2 linked regions of the Homo sapiens genome follow. The protein of the gene in region 1 interacts with the protein of each later gene in a pairwise test. Each region holds a gene or a part of one and is shown on either strand. Other genes may lie near its edges.

What was found.
Region 2: the proteins of MAP4K4 (region 1) and TBPL2 interact in a two-hybrid assay, tested with the Homo sapiens proteins (one study listed by BioGRID).

The regions. Positions count from the first base shown.
Region 1 is NC_000002.12:101,868,707-101,875,706, forward strand, and holds part of MAP4K4 (mitogen-activated protein kinase kinase kinase kinase 4), read left to right. Parts: intron 1-915; coding exon 916-1,091; intron 1,092-1,588; coding exon 1,589-1,709; intron 1,710-2,787; coding exon 2,788-2,979; intron 2,980-4,940; coding exon 4,941-5,058; intron 5,059-5,375; coding exon 5,376-5,546; intron 5,547-7,000.
Region 2 is NC_000014.9:55,420,897-55,438,123, forward strand, and holds part of TBPL2 (TATA box-binding protein-like 2), read right to left. Parts: exon of another isoform or gene 17,046-17,227; intron 16,123-17,045; coding exon 15,665-16,122; intron 15,039-15,664; coding exon 14,951-15,038; intron 12,826-14,950; coding exon 12,734-12,825; intron 8,079-12,733; coding exon 7,911-8,078; intron 3,358-7,910; coding exon 3,263-3,357; intron 3,189-3,262; exon of another isoform or gene 3,147-3,188; intron 1-3,146. UniProt on the Homo sapiens protein: Transcription factor required in complex with TAF3 for the differentiation of myoblasts into myocytes. The complex replaces TFIID at specific promoters at an early stage in the differentiation process.

The sequences.
Region 1 (7,000 bases):
CTCAGGGTCGCAGTGTCTCTTCATGTGTCACAGACTTGTCCATGAATGTGGCAGGTTGTGAACAGTCGGTGAAGTGAGATGTCAGTGGCATCCTAGTGCTCACTTCACTCCTTTCATTTTAATGTAGGTTTGAAGTTTTTTTTTTTTCAGTATGAGGTAAAATTCTAGATCAACAAATGTATATACACAGATCCTTGAGCTTTGGTGTAAAGACACATGTCTATATGACAAAGTCTTCTTTAAAGGGGTCAGTCCAGAAAGCAAGCCTCTAGTTAAATAAGCCTGATTTAAAGAGTTTTGGGAGGGAAGTTATGTTTCTACAACTTTTATTAATAAAATATTAAACCTAAAATGTTGATTTTAGTAAAATATTAATATTTATTACTAAAATTTCATAAATATCCTATAACTAGTAAATAAAAACATTAAATATTAAACCTTAGCGCTTTGAAGTTTTTAATAATAAAAGTTGAAGTAAAATAAAAATGTGTCTCTCAAAACCTTTTTTATGAGTCTAAAGAAGACTTTGTCATGTAGGGAGATCTCCTTACAACAAAGTCCAAGAGTCTGTGTATATACATTTGTTGATCTAGAATTTTACCTCATATTAAAAAACAACAGTAATACTATCAGCTTAACATAAGCAGATCTTTTTTTTATTGTCATGGGATTTGAACTGTATATGACATCTTTGACTTTTTTTTGGTGTCTTCTATTTTTTTTTTTTAATCTCTCTCTTGACTTTATTTGGTCTTTTCTATCAAAAGCCATAGGAGCTCACTTTCTCATGAAACTGGGTAACTATAAAAGTCTTACAAAACTGACATTGTGGCAATTTATGGTTAAAGAACTTCTCATCTTCTCCTGTCCCTGCTCCTGCTTGCCTTACTCTCTCTTTTCTGTCCTTTGCTTTAGGATCTGACCGCACTGGCCAAAGAGCTTCGAGCAGTGGAAGATGTACGGCCACCTCACAAAGTAACGGACTACTCCTCATCCAGTGAGGAGTCGGGGACGACGGATGAGGAGGACGACGATGTGGAGCAGGAAGGGGCTGACGAGTCCACCTCAGGACCAGAGGACACCAGAGCAGCGTCAGTCCCCGGTCTCTTTTAGAGCGGATGAGAGTATTCTCTCAGAGCCTGCTTTCCACTGGGACCTAGTTGTTCCTAGACTATTCCGTGACCCCATGAGCACTTACTATGTAGTTCTCGTGGATTCAGCAGCAGGTCGCCTTGTGTTTCCCCTTCTCTTCGTTGGTGTGTGCATATGTCAGTGCTTCCCCCAGCACCCCAGCGTGTACTTTATTTTTTCCTTTTGATTTGAGGATATATGATCCAGGGGAAATTTCAGTTTGGTATAACTACTTTAATTAGCCATAATTATTCATTCTAAGTTTTTGCTCAGAAACAAATGGCACTGGAAAGAAATTCTTTGTTAAAGGGAGAAAGCTAAGCAGTTGCTTTTTTGGAGGAGGCTTTATATCGGTAGCCTCATCTCATGTTTTGATTTTGAGAAGGCGAAAAGCCTAAACAGGATCTCCTTGACTCCAGAGATTAAGGCCTTTCACGTCTGGATTTTTTCTCCATAGGTCATCTCTGAATTTGAGCAATGGTGAAACGGAATCTGTGAAAACCATGATTGTCCATGATGATGTAGAAAGTGAGCCGGCCATGACCCCATCCAAGGAGGGCACTCTAATCGTCCGCCAGGTACCCGTGTCTTCTCTGTTGTCAGAGGCTGAGCTTCTCCTGTGGTCATTAACCCACTTGCTCATTCACTCACTCATGCTGTTTCTCCATCATCATCTGTTTTCATGTTAACAAGTCCCAGAGGGTCAAGTGTCGAGTGTCGGGGGCTAGGGAGGCAGGTGTGTACTGCATGCCCAGAAGGTAGCGAGTAGTCTCCACCCCACATCGCTGCTCCTCTGCATGTCTGCGGCAGCCCTCATTCAAGCACCGCGCTGAGTCTCACAGTCTATGTCTGAGCGGGAGAGAAGCCACAGGGAGTCCTTAAACAGGCTCACAGAGTGAGGAAGCAGGTCTGGAGTCTGGCAGAGCAGCCACCATGGCTCTGCAGAGCACGCTGGGCTCTGAGTGTCTGCAGTGCCACAGTGGGAGCGGGTGAGGCAGGCAGGACGAGCCTCATCACAGGCCCAGAGACTCGGAGAGCAGAAGGGTTCGGGAGGTTTCTCTTCTATGTTCCAAAATGTTAGTTTTCTCACTTGTTGAATAATTAAATGTGTGCCACCCAGATATGCTCAGTTTGGATCACTAAGCTTTATAACTGTCTGTTCATTTCTTAGCTTAGACTTAATTAAAGTGATACGCTTCTCATTTAAATAGAACAGGGCACCTATTTAGTATTTTGGACTTTGCCCTAAGTGTGTTTCATGCTATGGCAATGCATTCGGATGGAAAGTAGGAAGAATGTGGAAAAGACCAGGATTCAGAGAATCCACAGGTACTTTCTGGAGCTTTGCAAAGAAAGATTTAAAAAGAAAAAAAAAAGGATACTGGTTTTGGTAACAGAAGCTAGCGCAACAGATAAACCAGATTAAACACTCACTGCTCGAGCCGTGCAGCCACCAGATTAGGTACTTTGAATTCTGTTGGCACAAGTTAGGCATTTGGTGAGGAAGTGTGAGCAGTTCAGGCTAATTTCTTTGGTTTTTCCTTGGTAATTTAGCAGAGTTTATAAGTCACACAGCACCTTAAAGCAGTTATCAATAGGGCCATAGGCAATTTTAGCAGCGCTTGAGCGAGACAAGTGTGCCTGTTTTTTCTACAGAGTACAGTTGACCAAAAGCGTGCCAGCCATCATGAGAGCAATGGCTTTGCCGGTCGCATTCACCTCTTGCCAGATCTCTTACAGCAAAGCCATTCCTCCTCCACTTCCTCCACCTCCTCCTCCCCATCCTCCAGCCAGCCGACACCCACCATGTCCCCACAGACACCCCAGGACAAGCTCACTGCTAATGAGGTATGTCTCGCACCACAGCTGGCTGCTTTCCTGGGGTTAGACCAGCACTGCCTAGGAGTTAGTTTGCAAAGGAGACCTTTCCAACACCCTCACCCCTTCCCTTCCCACCCTGCTTTCTCTGTCACCTACCCTTCTCCCCAACCCCAAGTAACATGTTTCAGATCTGCATATAAACCCCTTAACCCTAGATCAGCTCCCCCAAACTTGCCAGTTCACTGTTTACTGTTCTGTAGATAAGTATAGTTGCATGGCTTTATCTAGTTTATTTTTTAAAAATCTAAATAAAATGATTGCTCTGTCCTCAGACCGGTATTATGTATTTGGCATGAAATTCTTATAGTCATTTGTGGAATCTGCCTTTTTCATTCTTTTTATCCAATAAATAAAATATAGGAAGATTCGGTTCAGCAGGCTTGGCCTTATCTGGACAAACTTATTATCCTGTACAGGAATCTCTTTCAAACAGAACTGATTTTTTTTTTTTTTCTTGTTTGGGGGGTGGGTTGTTGGCTGATTACTCTTACTTGTTTTCACCAACCCTGTTAAGGAGTTTGTTCTTTGACATTTACAATCACTCAGAGGTTTAGAAGCCAAATTATTTTTGGGAAACCTAGAAAAAATTAGGATGTTAAGCAAGAAGGACAAAGGTTTGAGCTTGTTTTTAATTTAAAATTTTGTGTGGGAAATCTGTGTGCTCCTTTGAAGGCTTGGTTGTGGTGCTCGGTCTGGGTGTTAGCTCAGTCTGGGTGATTCTTTGCTCTTTGAACAGGGTTATACTCCAGGTGTAGTGACATAGCCCACTTGAGCACCCGTATTGAATTAAACAAGTGATTTGATTCCACAGAAGATTTGGTTTAAGTGTCTTTATCTACCAGTTGAGGGAGGTTAGAAAGAATCAGAAAAATCCTCTCCTCCGGAGGAGCAGTGGCAAGTCAACTGCTTCCTAGACAGGCTTGGCATCGGCTAGACTGGCTCCTGACTCATGGGACAGGGAGGGAAGCTGCCAGGGGACAGATGTTCAGGTGGGAAGCTTAGGGGAGGGCATGGGCTCTAGGACATGGTGACCCTCAGGTGTCCATGGAGGGGGTCCAATGGTACAGGACAAAAGCACTTGATCAGACATGTTCCTTTTTTCTCCTGAGGTATATATCCCACCTACACTCACATTCTTCCTTATATTTATATTTTAAACTTTGCTCCATTTCGCTCTAATGTGCAGTATTTTACTATAACCCTTAACTCACTAAACCGGCAAATTTATTTTTCTGTTTGTTTTGTTTTTAATTGTCATTACATTTCCACTTAACAATTTGTTTCACTTCCTTTGTGTTTTTTTGTCTTAAGTTACATTATTAACCAAAACACTAGTGCTCCTAAAAGATCAAAAAGATACGCCTTCTTTTGTCATTTGCACCTTTCACTAATGAGTCCTCATTTGGTATGGGTTTAATGGTGATGCACCTAAAACAACAGTAGCCAAAGCTTCTGTAGCTTTCTGGCAAGAGGCTCAATTTAAAATAACTACAATTATTAACAATTGCCAATATTCCAGCATAGATTATTTGGACTCTTGGGTAGGAGAATAAATTCAGAAGTTGGTGAATTGAGATCAAGACATTTCAGACCTCCTTTAGGAGTTTCATTATAAGTATTTACTTAATTTTTTTTTAAAGCTAGGCACATGAAGTCTAGATTTCATTGGTAGCTTGCAGCACTGCTTTGTAAGTGAGCAATGTCTCTGGTAGAGATACGGCTCCTGCAGTGGTTCCAGGTAAAGCTGCCCTGAGGGGTGCTATGCCACGTGGAAGCTCCCCGCAGAGCATTTTTTGGGGGAATGATGCAAGGCAAATAGAGCAAAGTATTGGGAAATAGTGCAATATAGAAGTGAATTGAAATGTGTATTTTTAATGTTCATTTTTAAAATGCCAGTTGTATTAATAACATTGAAATTTACATTGCAGACTCAGTCCGCTAGTAGCACACTCCAGAAACACAAATCTTCCTCCTCCTTTACACCTTTTATAGACCCCAGATTACTACAGATTTCTCCATCTAGCGGAACAACAGTGACATCTGTGGGTAAGTACAGTAGCAACAAGAAAGCAGCTGACAAATGGGACTTTATCTTTGAGTTGCTCTTTTGGGTGGCTTAGGTGTAGCTGGTTGTTCACAGGCACAGACCTCGGGTACAGAAACTTCCCATCCCAGTTGTATGCCTTATTTGCAATGAGATGCAGAGTCCATTTCCTTTTTCCATATACATTGCTTACAGATTTCTTCTCTTTGACAAAGTGTTGGTTATACCACATGAATATTTACTTGAAGTATACTGGGGAAGGGAGGCAGGCATAGTGTGTGTGTGTACAGAAAATAATTTCAAATATATTGTGTTTCAGTGGGATTTTCCTGTGATGGGATGAGACCAGAAGCCATAAGGCAAGATCCTACCCGGAAAGGCTCAGTGGTCAATGTGAATCCTACCAACACTAGGCCACAGAGTGACACCCCGGAGATTCGTAAATACAAGAAGAGGTTTAACTCTGAGATTCTGTGTGCTGCCTTATGGGGTAGGTGTCTAGCCACTACTCCAACACTTTCATTTTTGTTCTGAGTGGTGGCTGGTCTTCTAGAGAAGTACTGCATTGAATAGTTTGTGGATAGACAGGATGGAAGACTTCTATGATGTCCATCTCCTGTTATATGCAGAGTGGTATATTAGCAGACTGGTGTGGCACATGTATATGATTGCACTCATTTTAACTGTCAAATATTGGCATGATTAATCTCCATTTTATTTTTATTAAACAAATTTTTGTAGTAGTTTTGTTACGTGGATATATTGTATAGTGGTGAAGTCTGGGTTTTTAGTGTAACCATCAGCCCATTATACTCAATAGTGTACATTGTACCCCTGAACCCTGAGGTTGACTGTTCTCACTATAAAATTCAATCATATCTAGCAGTGGAAATGTTGGAGAAGTATATTTATAAAAACTTACTGCAACATGCAACCCAGTGTTTTTCATTTTTCATGCTTGTAATTTCCAAGTACTTTACAGTGACTATTCTTTTGACTATTAGCATTCAGTACTTTATAAAATTATACAACTGTACAATTATACAACTTGGAAATATATCATGGAGAAGTAGAAGATAGAGTGTAAGTGCCACAATACCTGCAGCTTTTGTGTTTTGAAAAGAGTCTTCAGCTTTATCTTGTTACTCCCTCATTCTTTCTCACTGTAAAATCTTGAGGTTGATGTTTATATGTTAGTTTTTAGAAACACACATAATAGGATTTCTTCACAAGGCCCATATTTTGTGTAGTTATTACCAGATTCTTGACATAGGAGTTTAAAAAAATCTACTTGATACTGAAGATTGACCAGGAAAATATCAAAATATTGTGTAAAATAGAACCTTTGAAATGGTATCTGTCTGGCAGCAGTTCTATCAATAAATATCTGTCTTTTCTACCAATAATTTCTAAGCTGTTTTAGATCAACTTGCCTAGATATATGCAGGGAAACCTAAGCATAATATTCAAATAAGTTCCACCTTGACAAGGATATAGTCAGGGCAGAATGGCCAACCTCAAGAATAAAATTATATGAAAATGAATCACATATTACATATTTAAATATTTTTCTTATACTGATAATCTTTTTAGTTGTACAGCATTTTTTTTTTTTTAATCTCTAAGGGTTAAGTCACTATGCCCACAAGCATTGCTTGGGTAGATACTGTCCTCCAAATGTTGGGATAATCCCAACTCAATCAACTCTATAAGGACCAGGCATGAACAGAGAGAGGGCTGTAGGAGCGTTGTTCTCTCAATGCCGTCACAATTATTTATTTCAGATTATCTGGAAATAGGGTGTGGGTGGGTGTGGGCATACATGTATGTGCCATGATATTCTTCCGCCTCACTCCCTCTACACAAATACTTTATTCCTTGTCTTGGTGAGTTTATGACTGAGGAAATCAGTACACACAGATATGTGCCCAATTCCCTAGGAAT
Region 2 (17,227 bases), on another chromosome or scaffold:
AAAATACAAAAAAAATTAGCTGGGCATAGTGGCAGGTGCCTGTAGTCCCAGCTACTGGGGAGGCTGAGGCAGGAGAATGGCGTGAACCCGGGAGGCGGAGGTTGCAGTGAGCCGAGATCGCACCACTGCACTGCAGCCTGGGCAAAAGAGTGAGAATCTGTCTCAAAAAAAAAAAAAAAAAAGAAAAAAGAAATTTGGGGTAGGTGGGAAAGCTGATCTGAATTAAGGGCATTTAAAGAAATCTATAATAGGAACTTTGCCTGTATTTGGCAATTTGCACTTTTAATAAGATTTATTTGTAATGATACATGGCACTTATGAAAGTTTCCTTCCAAAGGACTTGAAAGTGTGTTTCCCTAAGTAGGGTATGTATTTGCCTCTGATATCTACACTATTCAATTTTATTGGCAGGCTTTTCTCACTTCCTCTAGGACATGTAGAGGTAAACTTTATGTCAGTCACTAGGGGGTCTTAATTACTCCAGACTCTAAATTAGTGCCATCTGAGGAATTGTAGTTTTGCTGCATTCAAAACGTTCTTGGATTCCAAACAAGCTTTCCCCACTTTGTTTTTAATTTTTTAATTAAGATGAAGTCTCACTCTGTCACCCAGGCTGGAGTGCAGTGGCGCGAACTTGGCTCACTGCAGCCTCTGCCTCCCAGGTTCAAGTGATTCTCCTGCCTCAGCCTCCCAAGTAGCTGGGGTCACAGGTGCCTGCCACCATGCCCAGCTAATTTTGTATTTTCAGTAGAGATGGGGTTTCACCATGTTGGCAAGGCTGGTCTTGAATTCCTGGCCTCATGTGATCTGCTTGCCTCAATTTCCCAAAGTGCTGGGATTACAGGCGTGAGCCACCATACCCAGAAACTTTCCCCTCTTTGAAGACACATTAATTATTTCTTAAAGAAAAGCAAACTATACAACTCAGAGTTATAAAAGAACACTTAAAACAGACATGTCATTTTGCTGGATGCTGAGTTATGACTTAATCAACTTTTCTGAATTCAGGTAATATAAAAGTCTCAATTTTTTTAGATGAGGCAAGATTTTATAAAATTCTAGTTTGGAGGAATATACATTTAAGAGAGGCTAAGAAATATAAAAATTAAAGTAATGAGGGGAAATTGGCCTTATTAGATATACCATGAGTATTAAAGCTACAATAAGATAAAGGCAATAGGATTATAATAGGATAAACCTAGAGCAAAGGCAGAACCGAAGAACAGCCACATATGTAAAAGAAAGGTCAAAAGGAGTCATCCAAAATTAATGAGAAGATATGTAGCGTTAAGTTGGTTGGCTAGCTATTTGGGACTGGGGCATGGAGATCAGTTTGGCTCAGGCCACATAAACTTGGCATTCATTATGGTAGAGGAGAGTGAAATGTATAAAAAGACAAAAGTAGACTACGCGATCTCAGCTCACTGCAACCTCCACCTCCTAGGTTCAAGCGATTCTCCTGCCTCAGCCTCCTGAGTAGCTGGGATTACAGGCGCTTGCCACTATGCCCAGCTAATTTTTTTTTTGTATTTTTAGTAGAGACAGGGTTTCACCATGTTGGCCAGGCTCATCTTGAACTCCTGACCTCATAATTCGCCTGCCTCGGCCTCCCGAAGTGCTAGGATTACAGGCGTGAGCCACCGCGCCCGGTCATAAAATAGCAACTTTCTGTAGGTGGGGCACAGTGGCTCACACCTGTAGTCCCAGCACTTTGAGAGGCCAAGGCAGGTAGATCACTTGAGGCCAGAGGTTCGAGACCAGCCTAGCCAATTTGGCAAAACCCCATCTCTTCGAAAAATACAAAACATTAGCTGGGCATGGTGGCATGTGCCTGTAGTCTCAGCTACTCAGGAGGCCGAGGCAGGAGAATCACTTGAACGCTGGAGGTGGAGGTTGCAGTGAGCTGAGATCGCGCCGCCATAGTCCAGCCTGGGCAACAGAGTGAGACTCTGTCTCAAAAACAAAAACAAACAAACAAACAACAATATATATAGCAACCTTCTGTAGAATGACATAGAAAAGAGTCTGAACCATTCCCTCAAGTAGTTTTAAAAAGTGCTATTTATGCAAAAATTATTTAAAAAAAAGCCAACAGGAAAAAATAACAAATATAGCAAAGAATAATTTGTCTTTAATAGTATTATAGTAAACTCAAATCCCGAGAAAATACAAGCTAAGTAGACAAAAGGATAAGTTATGTCATGTACATATTATTTACAAGAGACAAAATGCTATTTATTGGATGTGTTGAAAAATGGTCGATTTCTGTCTCTGATTACCGGTGGGGTTAAAGTAGTGAGATAATTTTTACATATACAGTTAAAGTTTTCTTTGGTACCATTTTGTTTGGAATGCTGCCAAGCATTTGGTAAAAGATATTTAGATACATTGCATTTAAGACCATGTGATACAGAACTATGTCATATATCCCTTTAAAACAATTGGGCGATTTGTTCTAAGAACAAAATGGACATAGCCTTAAACGAAAGTCCCATTTCTGAGTGTCCACACTAATATCATAATTGTCTACAGGTAAAAGCAGCCAAATGTCTGCCCTTCATAAGTAGCAAACAAAGAAGGAACATTTACCTATCTAGCAATGGGACAATACGTTTGATTCAATAACATGTTAGAATGGGTTCAGCAAAGGTAGGTCTGCTGGCTAAAGCCATCCTGCTGCCTGATTTTGTTAGCCTATGAGCTAAGAATGGTTTTTATCTTTTTCAGCAGTTGGGGAAAAAATATTACATAACACACATAAATTATGTCACGATATGAAATTCACATTTCAGAGCCCATTCCTTTATATAATGTAACATTCAGAGCTGCTTTCACACTACGATGGCAGTGCTCAGTAATTGTGACAGACCCTGTGGCTCACAAAGCTTAAAATATTTAGTATTTGGCCCTTTCCAGAAAAGAGTTTGTTAACCCCTGTGTTAGGACCTTGTGTGGCCATTAAAAGCCTTTATGAAGAGTTTGTAACAGTAAGTTTAAGCCATATATGTTATCATGGATAATTCTGTAAAAAAATCAGGATGTAAAGATGAAATACTTAATAAAATGACATAAAAACATGAAAAAAATGTTGTTTTAGGTACTGGGACCTATGGGTGATGTTATTCCTTTCTTATTTTTCATTCCAGGTATTCTGTATAACAAGAATTACTTTACCATGGTGAACAAAGGTATTTAAAAGAATAAGCAAAGCACATGCATAGCAATTACATTTTATGAGTCAGAAAATAATCTTAGCACTTACCTGTCAACACAACTTTTCCAGATACAAAGATAAGCAACACAATTCGTGGTTTTACCATTCTATAAATAAGACCAGGAAACAGTTCAGGCTCGTAACTGTTAAGATGTAAAAGGAAAATGTTAAAAATAGCACTATTCAGCTCCTTTCCCATAACATGTAAGGCCCAGTATATTAAAGTGCATATTAAAGCAGTTGTAAATAAGTTAGCTATTTTATCAAAAACTTTTTAACTATCTTGATGAAGAGTCTTGAGTGTCCTAGGTAATATCTTATGGAAGTTAGGAACATAATTAATTTTGGGTCATAACACAAGTGCAAGCTATCCTGGATGGTTATTAGAAATCAAGGTAACTTAGGGCATCTGATTTAGTGTATTGAGAGCTTGTTGGTTAAACATCCTCTATCTTTTCAAAAAAGTCTGTTAATAAGAATACATAATCATGTTTTTCTGGGTTTCCAAATTCTCCAATAATAAACATATTTTGTATGCTTTTACGAACTGCTGAAGTTAACATTTTTAGCAGATAGAACCTAAAAATATTTCTAGGCCACTGCTATTTGTATTTGAACAGGTGCTATATAAATAAAGAAAATCCAATTATCCCGAGTTTTTACAATTCAGGATTTGTTGCTATAAATAGTAACTCATATTTACTACTAAATATAAGCTGGCCACTCCATGGAGCGAAAGATGATAGCACTTAAGAGCTTCTTCTCCACACTCCAGCCTGGAGAGGAGGGCAGATTCTTAGAAAGGCTTGAGGAACCTACCAAAAAGAAGTCAGGAAGTGAGAGGAGGTGAATAAAACTATTCTCAAAGCAGTGGCTAATGGACAAGAAATATAAGAAAAAAAGACATCCAAGCAATGGAACACTAGCATCTTTGCACTTAAAGGGTGAATCCAGACTGCATGGAAAAGCTCCATTCAGTTCAGCAATGAACAAGACCCAAAAACAACAGCAGATGTGGAACCTTTTACTGGCTCCAGAAAGGCGCATCTTGAAGTGAGTCTTGCCCATCTCAAGTATAGGAGGTCATTGTGGGTGGAACTGTCTTCTGGAACATCACTCTGTCTTACTGCAGGGAGCCTGTCAAGACTTTCTCCCACTAACCACTTCCCAACACTGGGGAGACCATGACACTAGGGGGAGCCCTGAAAAACCCTCCAGGGCTATGAGATCCAGGCCAAGAAAATGAAGGCTGGAGACACAAAAAGAAGATTTCCATTTGATCTTCCAGCTAAATTTTAAGACTTAGAAAAGAGAAAACAAAAACTTTGGTATGTAAATGATATTGAACTGCATTTAGCTTTTAGAACCATGGTTTTAAGATTACCAGTATAATGTGCTCCCAATTAGGAATATACTTCATTTTATTTATTCTCTGCCTCATTCCAAAAGAAGGCTGAGGCAGAGAAAGAGAGTGGTTTTGGTTAGGGATGGAGAACATTTCACAAAGATTGAGAATATCGAACACCTGCCAATTTCTTGGCCAACCCAACTTTGACCCATCCTTCAAGTCTCATTTTAAATGTTACTTCCCCAAGAAAATCTTCCTTGATCTCTACCCACCCCCAATTACATTAAAGACCCTGCTTTATGGTCTCATAGCCCCTGAAGGGCCTTACCTTCACAGTCACCATGTTTCATTACTGTCATTGACTTGTCCATCTTTTCTTTTAGACAGTGATCTCTATGTGGGCAAGGGACTATAGCTATATTGCTTGCCATTATCATCCTAGCATCTGCTACATGGTAGTCACCTAGATCTTATTCATATAGCAAGTATTTATATCAGGATACCTTTGAATTAAAAATTAAAGAGGGGGCCGGGTGCGGTGGCTCACACCTGTAATCCTAGTACTTGGGAAGTCGAGGTGGGTGGATCGCCTGAGGTCAGGAGTTCAAGACCAGCCTGGCCAATATGGTAAAACCTCGTCTCTACTAAAAATACAAAAATTAGCCGGGTGTGGTGGTGGGTGCCTATAATACCAGCTACTCAGGAGGCTGAGGCAGGAGAATCACTTGAACCCTGGGGGGTGGAGGTTGCAGTGAGCTGAAATCATGCCACTTCACTCCAGCCTGGGCAAAAGAGCAAAACTCCATCTCAAAAAAAAAAAATAAATAAATAAAATAAAGAGGGAAAAATTCTCATTGACAACTGTGGAAATGATTATGTCATAGAAAGATTACCAGAGAAAGTGCCTGGTAACAAAAGGAGATACTTGTATTATTAAATGTTGACATACAAATTTGCAGAACCTGGGAAACTGAATGACCTTAGGGGTTTAACACAAGGCAAATTTGGCCTGATAATTATAACTGATTATGTAGCATGGTTCCCCACAGAGCTACAGACAATTAGAGAGGCCTCATGTTAAAAATTCAAATCTTCTAAGAGGTGTTTTTAATGTTCCCAGTGTCAAGAATACACACTCTGGAGTTGTAATCCATAACCTGAGGCTGACAGCCGAATGGAGAGGATGAGGGGGAGGCAAGAATGAGACTAGAAATAGAAAGTTGTGGGAATACAAAGCAAGCTTCCTGGCCAGATTAAAAAAAAAAAAAGAAAAGAAAAGAAAAGATGACTGAGATCATAAAACTGTCCCAGGAGGAAGATAGAACAGGGATGGGCCCACTCCGTCTGATGTATTCTCACTGCGCCTTACTGGCAACCCTTCCAGAAGCTGGTAGTAATAACAAGGGGCACCTATTCTAGACTTAGATCTGCTCTGCAAGGAAGATGCTGGTGAAAAAGAAATGAATGGACACTTGGGAAGAACCACACACATCATTTTCGAGCCCTGAATGGCCAGAAGGGAATGCTAAGTCTAATGTAGACACAACCTTAGAGTTCGGGCAGAGCTCTTGCAGATGTACACTAAGCCGATTCAGAGAAAGATAGGCTGGAGGCTCGTGACTTGAGAGTCTGGAAGATAAGACAACTTAAGCACTGGGAGACTCTTAGAAACAGGCTTTATTAGGAAATCTGCAAATTATGCCAAGATTGAAGGAAGAAAGATACCTAAAGAGGCAACATGTCTTACATGGGGGAATGGGAGGACTTTATAGGGAGCTCAGATTTTTAAAAAATGGGGTATATTTAGGCATTCAATAGCATACAGTGAAAAAACTGAAGAAAAAAGAAAACATAATCAAGAGAAAAATAAACATGTCAAAAGAAAAATAAGCATATCATAAAAGCTGAATCTCAGAATGAATGAAAATATTTTAGAAGAAAAAGGAATTTTTAACTTCCATTCAGATCATATCTGAAAGGAAAGCTAACAAATGTTAGGGAAAGCACAGCAATATGATCCCTATCTACTCTATTGACGGGATAATCATTCGATGGCCAAGAGAAGATAAGGCGTTGGAATGAAAGAACTTCAGTTCCAGCTTGGCCAAGAGAATTTAAGAGCATCTGTGATTAACCCAGGCCAAGTGCCCTAGCCCAGGTGTATATCTTGGTGAGTCAAGGGGTTTGGTGTCCATGAGTCACCCTCCATCCCTGCTCTCTGAGGGCCTGGGATGGGAGAGCCACCAAAACGGCTGGGGGCGGGGGAGGAGCACTAGCTGTTGAGACGGGAAGTCTGAAGTCAGGAAGGCTAGAGATATTCCCTAGGAAAAGGAATATACTACAGGCAACATTGTGTTGCGGGCTGCAGCTATATACACACACACACACACACACAGATAGGGGACAAACTAGTTAGGATTGCTTTTTTTTTTTTTTTTTTGAGACGGAGTCTGGCTGTGGCCCGGGCTGGAGTGCAGTGGCGCGATCTCTCACTGCAAGCTCCGTCTCCCGGGTTCACGCCATTCTCCTGCCTCAGCCTCCCAGGATTGCTTTCATAGAACGTGCTACAGCATTCTTTTTTCATCTTCTCCCCAATCCATTCTCCCCTCACCAGCTGTCAAGCCCCTTCCTACCGGCCTAGTCCATTTCACATGCCTTATCTTTTTTTTTTTTTTTTTTTTTTTTTTTTGAGACGGAGTCTCGCTCTGTCGCCCAGGCTGGAGTCCAGTGGCGCGAGGTCGGCTCACTGCAAGCTCCACCTCCTGGGTTCTGGCCATTCTTCTGCCTCAGCCTCCCGAGTAGCTGGGACTACAGGCGCCCGCTGCCACGCCCGGCTAATTTTTTGTATTTTTAGTAGAGACAGGGTTTCACCGTGTTAGCCAGGATGGTCTCGATCTCCTGACCTCGTGATCCGCCTGCCTCGGCCTCCCAACACATGCCTTATCTTGCCAGTGTCATTGCCAAGCTACGTTTGTATGCTTACAAATCTGTAGATTACTGGATCTCAATGTGTGGGCCTCTGACCAGTAGCACTGTCATCACCTTTGAGCTTTTTAGAAACACAAATTCTAGCAAAATCTCTGGTGAAGAAACCCAGCCAGAGATGTGTGCTTTAATAAGCTAAGTGATTGCTAAGCAATGTAAGTTTAAGAACCATGGTTTCAAAAGACTGGGCACATGTGGTAACCTATGAGAACTCAGGCATAGCATCTTAATCTTTTCACTATTGTGTCCCCCGCCTTTTTTTTTTTAATCACAATTTCTCTGAAAGATACTTTACGTAAGCAACCCATAATGTAACTTAAATATCTTGGTAAATTCAAAGTTCAAGCTATATAACCGTCATACCTACTGAACTGCTGATGGGTTAGCACCAAACCTTCCAGCCTGATGGGAAATCTCACATCACAGCTTCCAACCATGTTCTGAATTTTAAAATCGAGGAATCTGGCAGGGAACCCAAGCTTCTGCACCACACGAGCATATTTTCTTGCTGCAAGTCGAGACTGCTCTTCACTGGGGAGGGGCAAATATGTTTAAAGATGTCTTAATCGCTACATCCTCTCAACTACTGGTGTTGTATTGGATTGTTACCATTTGTACCACGTTTATCTTTCAATGTATACTATGAAGCTGTAGGCTTTGTGAGGAGGACTTACTTCCCATACTTTCGTCCCTAGCACCTTATAAAAGGTCTTGTAAAATTGTACAGCTGTTGAACAGAATCATAAATTTTTGTCTTCATTTGTCACCTTTCATATATGAAGTACTTTTACTTTTACTTGGGTGTTATTTGCTAAAACGATTCCAAGGATTCGCAAAGTGTGTCCCCAGACCAGCAGCTTCACCTGGGAACTTGTTAGAAATGCAAAGTCCCAGGTTCCACCTCAGACATGCAGAAACTCTGGGGGTGGGGCCGAGCAATCTGTCTTTTAACAAGCCCTCTAGGTAACTGTGCTGCTCACTGCAGTTTGGGAACCATTCATCCAGTCTCAAAGTATGTCCCATTTAGAAGAGAACAATGGCTGGGCACAGTGGCTCACGCCTGTAATCCCAGCACTTTGGGAGGCTGAGGCAGGCAGCTCACCTGAGGACAGTAGCTCGAGACCGGCCTGGCCAACATGATGAAACGCTGTCTCTACTAAAAATACAAAAAAATTAGCTGGACATGGTGGCGGGCACCTGTAATCCCAGCTACTCAGGAGGCTGAGGCAGGAGAATCACTTGAACCTGGGAGGCAGAGGTTGCAGTGAGCTGAGATCGCGCCATTGCACTCCAGCCTAGGCAACAAGAGTGAAACTCCGTCTCAAAAAAAAAAAAAAAAAAAAAAAGAAAACAACAAGAAAAAATAAGGACACATGCATACAAAAAAAAATCGCATATAAGGAGGTAAGATATGTGCTGATTGAGTGGCACAGACAAGGTATCAGTTCTTGAGTCTTTATTGGACACACTGTCCAAAACAACCACATGAAAATACCTCAAAACCCCCCTTGTTTTGCTCGGCTTTCTCACCCAATCTTCAATTCAATTCAAACTCAACACAAGAAGGACAGGAATTTGTCCTACTCTGTGGCTATGTCCTTTAAGTGTCTGTCCTGCTGCACCCCTAAATTCATAGCAGAGCCTGTGGAGTCCTGAGAGGTGAGGCTTCATTTCTCCTTAGGTATTTTTCAACTGTTAGTGACAAAACAAAACAGTAGGTAGCAACACCTGCAGGGTGAATCAGGTGAATTCCACCCCCCTCATGGGTTTGGCCCTATTTTTAGGCTGTAAATCAGAAACACCTGAAAGAAAAGCCAGTTTGAACTTGTTTGCCTGGACTAAAGCAAGTGTTTGATTCTCTTATCCAGATCCTTCACCAACACTGCCCCCTCTTGGGTATTCGTTACTACATACATGTGTCACCTCATTTAATGTTGATTCTCCTCACCCACTTTAAAAAAAAAAAAAAAAAAAAAAAAAGAGATTGGGTTTTTGCTCTGTTACCCAGGCTGGAGTGCAGTGGCATGATCATAGCTCACTGCAGCCTTGAACTTCTGGCCTTAAGTGATCCTCCTGCCTCAGCCTCCTAAGTAGCCTGCAGGGGCATGCACCACCACACCTGCCTAAATTTTTATAGAGACAGGGTCTTGCTGTCTTGCCCAGGCTGGGCTCAAACTCCAGGACTCAAGTGACCCTCCCAACCTCAGCCTCCCCAAGTACTGAGGTTACAGGTGTGAGCCACTGCACATGGCCATCTGTTGATCTGGTATCTACTCACTAGATTGACTACAGCTGCACAGCACTGCCCTTGGCTCTCTTCACCCACTTCTCACTCTTGAAATGTCCTTAGCAAGGCCATGTCCCCAGGTTAGCAGTAAAATAAACTGTTTCCATTTTGAACTACATTTTGCCTAACTAATCTATTACATTTCCCGTAATGTAAATAAGTTCAAATTTGTTCAAGTTTGCATAGTCCTGTAGTTTCTTGGGATATCAGCTGTGATATTCTAAGGACACAGAAGTTTCTATTGAAACAACTAATAGTTGAAAGTCTATATACATGTTCATTGTACAAACATTAGAAAGTAGTTTAAAAATCTTAAAATCTCACCCATACTGGTGTTAACTACCTAAATTTGATCTTCTGCACTTTTCCTACGCAAACACAGGTATCCCTCATACTCTTGCTGTTACAACAAAAGAGAATAGGTTTGGATAAAATGTGGAGATAATACTGGCACCTCTTATTAACTAAATTCTCACAACTCACTATCCAAAACTTCAAAACCAAATATATTTGGATAAAAAGTATCTCTTATTATCTGAACTCATTATCCAAACTTTCACTATCAGATTTTAGGAATAAATTCAGATAAGAAAAGACACTCATGAATGTGTGTAATATGTGTAACATGAGCATATTTTACAATGAAAGTTGGATAACAAACACCATTTAGCTGCTTACTTCTCCCTCTGCAATCCAACTTAATACAATGTGACCATCCTTTCAGCTCAGTATGTGTACTATATGGCTAATACAATTTTACTTTATGACTTCAAATTGAAACCCTATTATTAATTAGGTTTTCCCTGTTCTATTGCTGAAATGAACATTATTACAGACATCTTGCACAACTGTCCAATAATCACTTTAAAATGGAGATTCCTGGGATCAACATAAGAGAAAGTCCAGCAATGTACTCAGACACATGTGAAGAACTTAATATGTAAAAACAGATTGGGGGAAATGTAGTAACAATGGATCCTTCAATAAATGTATCTGAGTACCGACTGATCATTTGGGAAAAATAATTATCTTACATTGAAACAAAATTCTAGATCTGCTCTGTCCAATTAATATAAATTCAGTCCCTCAGTTGTATTAGCTGTATTTCAAGTGCTCAGTAGCCACATCTGACTAGTGGCTATATCATTGCATTAAACAGTGCAGATATAGAACATTTCCATCTAGAGAAAGCTCTAAGTGAATCAAAATACCAGCTATCCTTTTCCTATCACAAAGCAGGACCTGAAAAAGACCAAAAAATATATGAAAGTCAATATTTGTATAATACTGTGCACAAATGCCTTAAGGGCAAAGCCAAATGTAGAAAACAAAGAAAAAAATGGGATAAAATGAGTATACCCTTCAAAATTTGTGTTTTTTAAAAAACCCACCATAGGCCAGATGTAGTAGCTCACGCCTGTAATCCCAGCACTTTGGGAGACCAAGGTGGGAGGACTACTTGAGCCCAGGAGTTCGAGACCAGCCTGGGCAATATGGGGAAACCCCCGTCTCTACAAAAAAAAAAAAAAAAAATTAGCCAGGCCTGGTGGTGCATACCTGTGGTCCCAGCTACTTAAGAGGCCGAGCTGGAAGGATGGCTCCAGCCCGGGAGGTGGAGGTTGCAGTGAGCCCAGATCACACCACTGCACTCCATCCTGGATAACACAGTGAGACCGTGTCTCAGAAAAAAAAAAACAACAAATAAACAAACAACAAAAAAAACACCATAAAATACCATAAACAGTAATCTGAGAAAAAATATTTACAGTATAAAATGGTGAAAATAGTTAACAAAACAAAAACAAAAGATAAATCTCTCCATAGATAACTGAGCAAATGACATAGCAATTTCTGCACTTCTAAAAAGTTATTTAATCTCACTAGTAAATCAAAGAAATGTAAAACAATGTAACTTTTTGTCAATCAATTTAGCAAATATAAAAAGAATATCGACACCCAGTGTCCACAGGATAAAATGAACACTTAGTACATTTATAGAGCGAGAAATTGGCACAACTTTTCAGGAGGAGAATTTGCTTCTTATCTTTTAACACCTACAGGAGAAAACAGGCTCTGCCACTACAGAGTTATGGTGAAAGAATACCCATCAACACAGGGCTTCCTCTGCGTGAGATCCAGGAGAGATGAGATTTTTAAGGGATGCCTCCTGAGCTAATGCAAGCTAATGCTCAAGGAATGTCTAATTGAGCTCCTTTAGAAAGTTCTATCCATTTATCTGCAATGAGGAAAATCCACAATAACTACTTCCCCAGACTTATAACACACTTCATCATTACTGTAACTTAAAAAAAATTCACCTTAGAAACAAGTTGTAGCAGCGCAGTTAAGTCCCCTCGGTTTAATAGGGGAAACTGTAAAATGGGGATATGTCAGTATTTTATTATTTTTTTTAATAGAGACAGGGTCTTGCTCTGTAACTCAGACTGGACTGCAGTGGTATGATCATAGCTCATTGCAGCCTCAAACTCATGGGCTCAGGTGATCCTCCCACCTCAGCTTCCCAAGTAGCTAGGACTAGAGGCATGCACCACCACATCCAGCTACTTTTTAGATTTCTCTTTTTTTTTTTTTTTTTTTTTTTAACAGAGATGGAGTCTCACTGTGTTGCCCAGGCTGGTCTCAAACTCCTGGGCTCAAGCGATCCTCCTGCTTAGGCCTCCCAAAGTGCTGGGATTACAGATGTGAGCCACCATGCCTGGCCCAAGTCAGTATTTATAGGAGTGTTTTTAACCCAAAATGTGGCATTTCATTGAATAAAGTCTTCAGCAAAGAAAGGCATTTTGCTTCTACTATGTGCTTTAGCACATTAATTCTATGCTTCCTTGTTTTACATACTAAATTGTTTCTCTGGTAGGGGTGGAGGGATGATTCCTCATACCTTTTGGCTCCCGTGCAGACCATCTTCCCAGAGCTAAATATAAGGGCTGTTGTCCTGGGCTCTCGGATCCTCATTATGACAGCAGCAAACCTCTATACCCAGAAACCAAAAGAGAATTAGCCTCTGCTAGGAGTTAACATTATCCCAGTTGAAAAAGCCGAGCTGAATATGAAAATCTCAAACAGATTGGATGGGAAAACTAAATGTCTGGGTCTTTTCTCCCTACATTAAGGTTAACAAAAATAATGATGATTCTAAAATGTACTTATTAACAGGTAAAAATAATATCAGTAACTCTTAAATTTGAATGCCTGTTATGTTTCAGTTCCTATTTATTCTCATGATAGGATGAACTTGTGTTTATTATCCTCATTTAGTGCTCAGGGAAAACAAGTAGCAATATAACCTCCAATATTACACAGGAAGTGGTAAAGTTAAGATTCAAAACCCACACTAATCAGATTCTCTGCTTTTTACTTTGACACACTTCCTTTTTCTTTTGAAGAATCTTTTGGGAAAAAAATAAGTATGTTAAAGGCTCACCAAGACTTCAGAATGTACTGAAAAATGACCAAAATGCAGAAGAGTCTGTATGATAGGCATGCTAAAGATGAATGACAGAAAGTTGATGTCAAGGTTCTTGCCTCTTATAGTTCTCAAAGTGTCATTCAAGACCAGCAGCATCAGCAAGCCCTGCAGGTGAGGCTGACACTCGTGAGGGTAGGGAACCTCTGGCCTGCCACATGGACGTGTCATCAAATGGCCTGCTCCTACACAGATAGTCTCTTCACCCCAACTCCTCTCCCCGGTTAAGCTAGGAAGGAAACTGGGGTGGGTGCTAGCTTAAGGGCCAAGCCAGAATTTCTCTGGGTGTCAAGCACAAGTTCAGAGAGATCCTATACACTCATCCCCAGCCCTGCCCACCCCTACCCCTCGTCCAAAATGAGAGGTGTGCTGAGGATGGTGGACAATAAAAGTTGCCTAAAATGCTGATTGTTCAATAATGTGATCACAGCTGCAGCTGTGAGGATCTTAGCTCATCTTTGTGTCTGTCCTCACCATTGTCAGCTGTATGAAATATCAAAAGGAAAGCTTTATTGTATTCGGGTAACATCGAGGTAACATTTAAATTCAGATGTCAGCAACAATACTAGGGCAACAGCAAAAACAAATAATAGTTGATGCCTGCAAGGTCTCTGGGTTCCTACGAATGTGACCTTTTTTCATCTAATTCCATAAATCCTCCACCACCTAAGCCAGTGAACTTTTTCCCAGTAGGAAGCAGGTCTTACTCATCTTTGTACTCCTAAGTACAGAGCCTGGCAAATCGTTAAAAGTTGATAGGATTGACAAACCCAATTACCCTAGGTAAACAAGCCATTGAAAACAGGATGCCTGGCCTTGGCAGGATACAAGAAAGAATAGATTTTATTAAACTTTGAGGAGGACGAAAAAAAAAATCCCTGAATCTTACATTAGTAAATAGGAGCTTGAACTTTATACTTTAAGCAGTTTAGCCTTCTCAGATAAGAGGAATTGTAATGGAAAGATACATAAGTGTCAGGTAGCTGAGACAACATTTGGCAAAAATTATTTCCAGAAATTTGATGGCATTTTAAGATAGTTAGCATCCCAATAGTCAGGTGAAATTTTTTTTTTTTTTTTGGAGACGGAGTCTCGCTGTTACCCAGGCTGGAATGTAATGGCATGATCTTGGCTCACTGCAACCTCTGCCTCCTGGGTTCAAGTGATTCTCCTGCCTCAACCTCCTGAGTAGCTGGGATTACAGGCACCCGCCACAACATCCAGCTAATTTTTGTATTTTTAGTAGAGACGGGATTTCACCATGTTGGTCAGGCTGGTCTCAAACTCCTGACCTCGTGATCCACCTGCCTCAGCCTCCCAAAGTGCTGGGATTACAGGAGTGAGCCACCGTGCCCAGCCTAAGTGAAAAATTATAATCATACTAAAAAATATTTTTGAATGACAAGGGAGAGAGCTTATCTTTAAGGAACTGCTCAATTACTGCTTTATTCAGCATAAAGAATGAGATTATTTTTTATAACTCAAAACAGATATTAACCCTGAGTTGCCAAAAGCTTTTTCAGTAACAATTTTTTAAGAAAAAACAGAGGAATTAGTCAATATCATGATCATATTAAGAAAAGTAAATCTAAAGAGAAGCTAATTATTGGAAGGAATACTGAGAAATGTTACCTTTGGGTTATATTCTGCATTTTTTGCATGCAAAGCTATTTTCTTCAGATCCAACTTACAGGCCAGGTTTACAGTGGAAACTATATTCCTGAAGAAATAAGTCAGTTTAGAAACTTATATCAGATATAAAGAGTAAAAAAAAAAAAAGACAACTTATTTTCTCATTTCTTAGGTTATACCTTAGCAATTTCCTAGGGGGAGAATTATTCCAAATGTGAAATACATGACATGATTCCTAGTTAAGTGTAAAATCCCAAAGTGAAGTGCTAAAGAGCCTTTCCTAAAATTTCATGACTAGCTGCTAAAATTAAGTTTTAGATCTTTTTTCAAAACAATGCCTCAAAATAGAAATTACAATTCTGAATCAATTTGCAAATCAAACTCAATTTTACATCTTTATATCCTTGGTGTTTATCCAACCCTACCCACAATTTTCAGCAACTACAGTGCTGTAGTATAAACAATACAATCCTTCAAGAATGCATCTATTAATCTTTAAGTCCCCTCCGCCCACCTTAGAGGTCAAGAATTAGTGCTTTGCCTTACAGATAATCAAACTGTCTAAAGCCACAATCCATTTAGAACTGATAAAACAAAGAATTATGAAATCTGAAATTCTCTTCCCTACTATTATCCTGAAATTAGTTGTCATCGCATTCAGGAATATAAAATGTGTACCCAATGTGCTCAATTAAAACAAAAATAAAAACTTACTGTAGTTGAGGTACAATTCCACAACATTCTGAAATAGGGGTCATTGGTGTCATGGGAGTTATGGATGCCAGAGACAAGGAGTCGGAGTTTGGTTTCTCAGGAGAGGGCTGGACTGAGTCAGTATCACCAGGGTGCAGCTGTGAATGGGAATTTGACAAACTGCTGCTGTTTAAGCCCAGCCCAACGTCCTGTTCGCTGGGTGATGGCAACCTACTTTGTGGACTTTGGCTTTCAGAATTTTCTTCAGTTTCGTGTTTGCTAATGACAGGCTGGTCTTTATTTTCCTGGGTAACTTCATCTGGTAGGAAGCTAAGATCCACAGATGAGAAATCACCAGATGTTTCTTTGACTTCAGGGTTCGAATTAAATGCAGTATCCGGATTGGATGCATTCAGTATGTACATATCATAAGGTACAACTGGGCTGAACAGGGGAGACCTGGGTGGGGCAAGGCCATCCTAGGCAGTTCCCAAAACAGACAGACAAAAACACAACAGACAGAACAGCATGTTACACAAAAGGGATGTCACTATGGCAGGCAGGCAGGCAATGTATTCAGTGTAAGAGGCAGTTCAAGATTGCTTGTATTCATGCACTGCTTTTTTCTAGAAAATGCCATTAAGATTCTACTACAGGCCAGATGTGGTAGCTCACGCCTGTAATCCCAGCACTTTGGAAGGCTGAGGCAGGCGGATGGCTGGAGGCTAGGAGTTTTGAGACTAGCCTGGCCAATGTGGTGAAACCACGTCTCTACTAAAAATGCAAAAATTAGCAGAGCATGGTAGTGCCTGCCTGTAATCCCAGCTACTGGGGAGGCTGAGGCATGAGAATCTCTTGAACCTGGGAGGCAGAGGTTGCAGTGAGTCGAGATCATGCTACTGCACTCCAGCCTGGGTATCAGAGCGAGACTCCATCTAAAAAATGATTCTATTACAGTTACAGCACACTTAATGGAAACAGAAAAGAATATTTTAAAATGCAGAAAAAGCATTCTTCATAAACTATCTTAGCTACTTTGGTTAGATCTCTAGTAAGTTGCCACTCTCTAAGTCCAATTTTGCAATAGAGGCAATTGAGCAACCATGCTCTAAATTGTTGTATACTTTGAAGAGAACAGATATACTGTATTATTTAAGTTAATTATAAACTTTAGTTGACTTTACTTTGAAATAATTTTGAGTTTTAAATGTAAATAGAATAAATGAAGGAAGTTTAAGATATAGTTGAATGCTAATCAAGACTCACTAAAGACCCATGGTTATTCCTTCTAGGCAAAGGCGTAATAAGAATTCTTGTAATGTTCTAGTTAGAAGAATTTACACTAGGAAAAAAGTTATTGAAACTTAAATGGTAAGAATAGTGTAAATCAATTTATTTTCAGTCCAGGGAAGGCTGCTCAACTACCATTATCCAGCAACGGAGAGAATGATGTGTGCACCTGAGGAAAGCAACTAATGTAAAATTCATGGACTTTATTATGGGAAAAAATCGATTAGCTTGATAAATGCATTACCACCTGCTTCACTCAAGTTACGGGCCTGGACTCCAGATTTTGAGCACTGC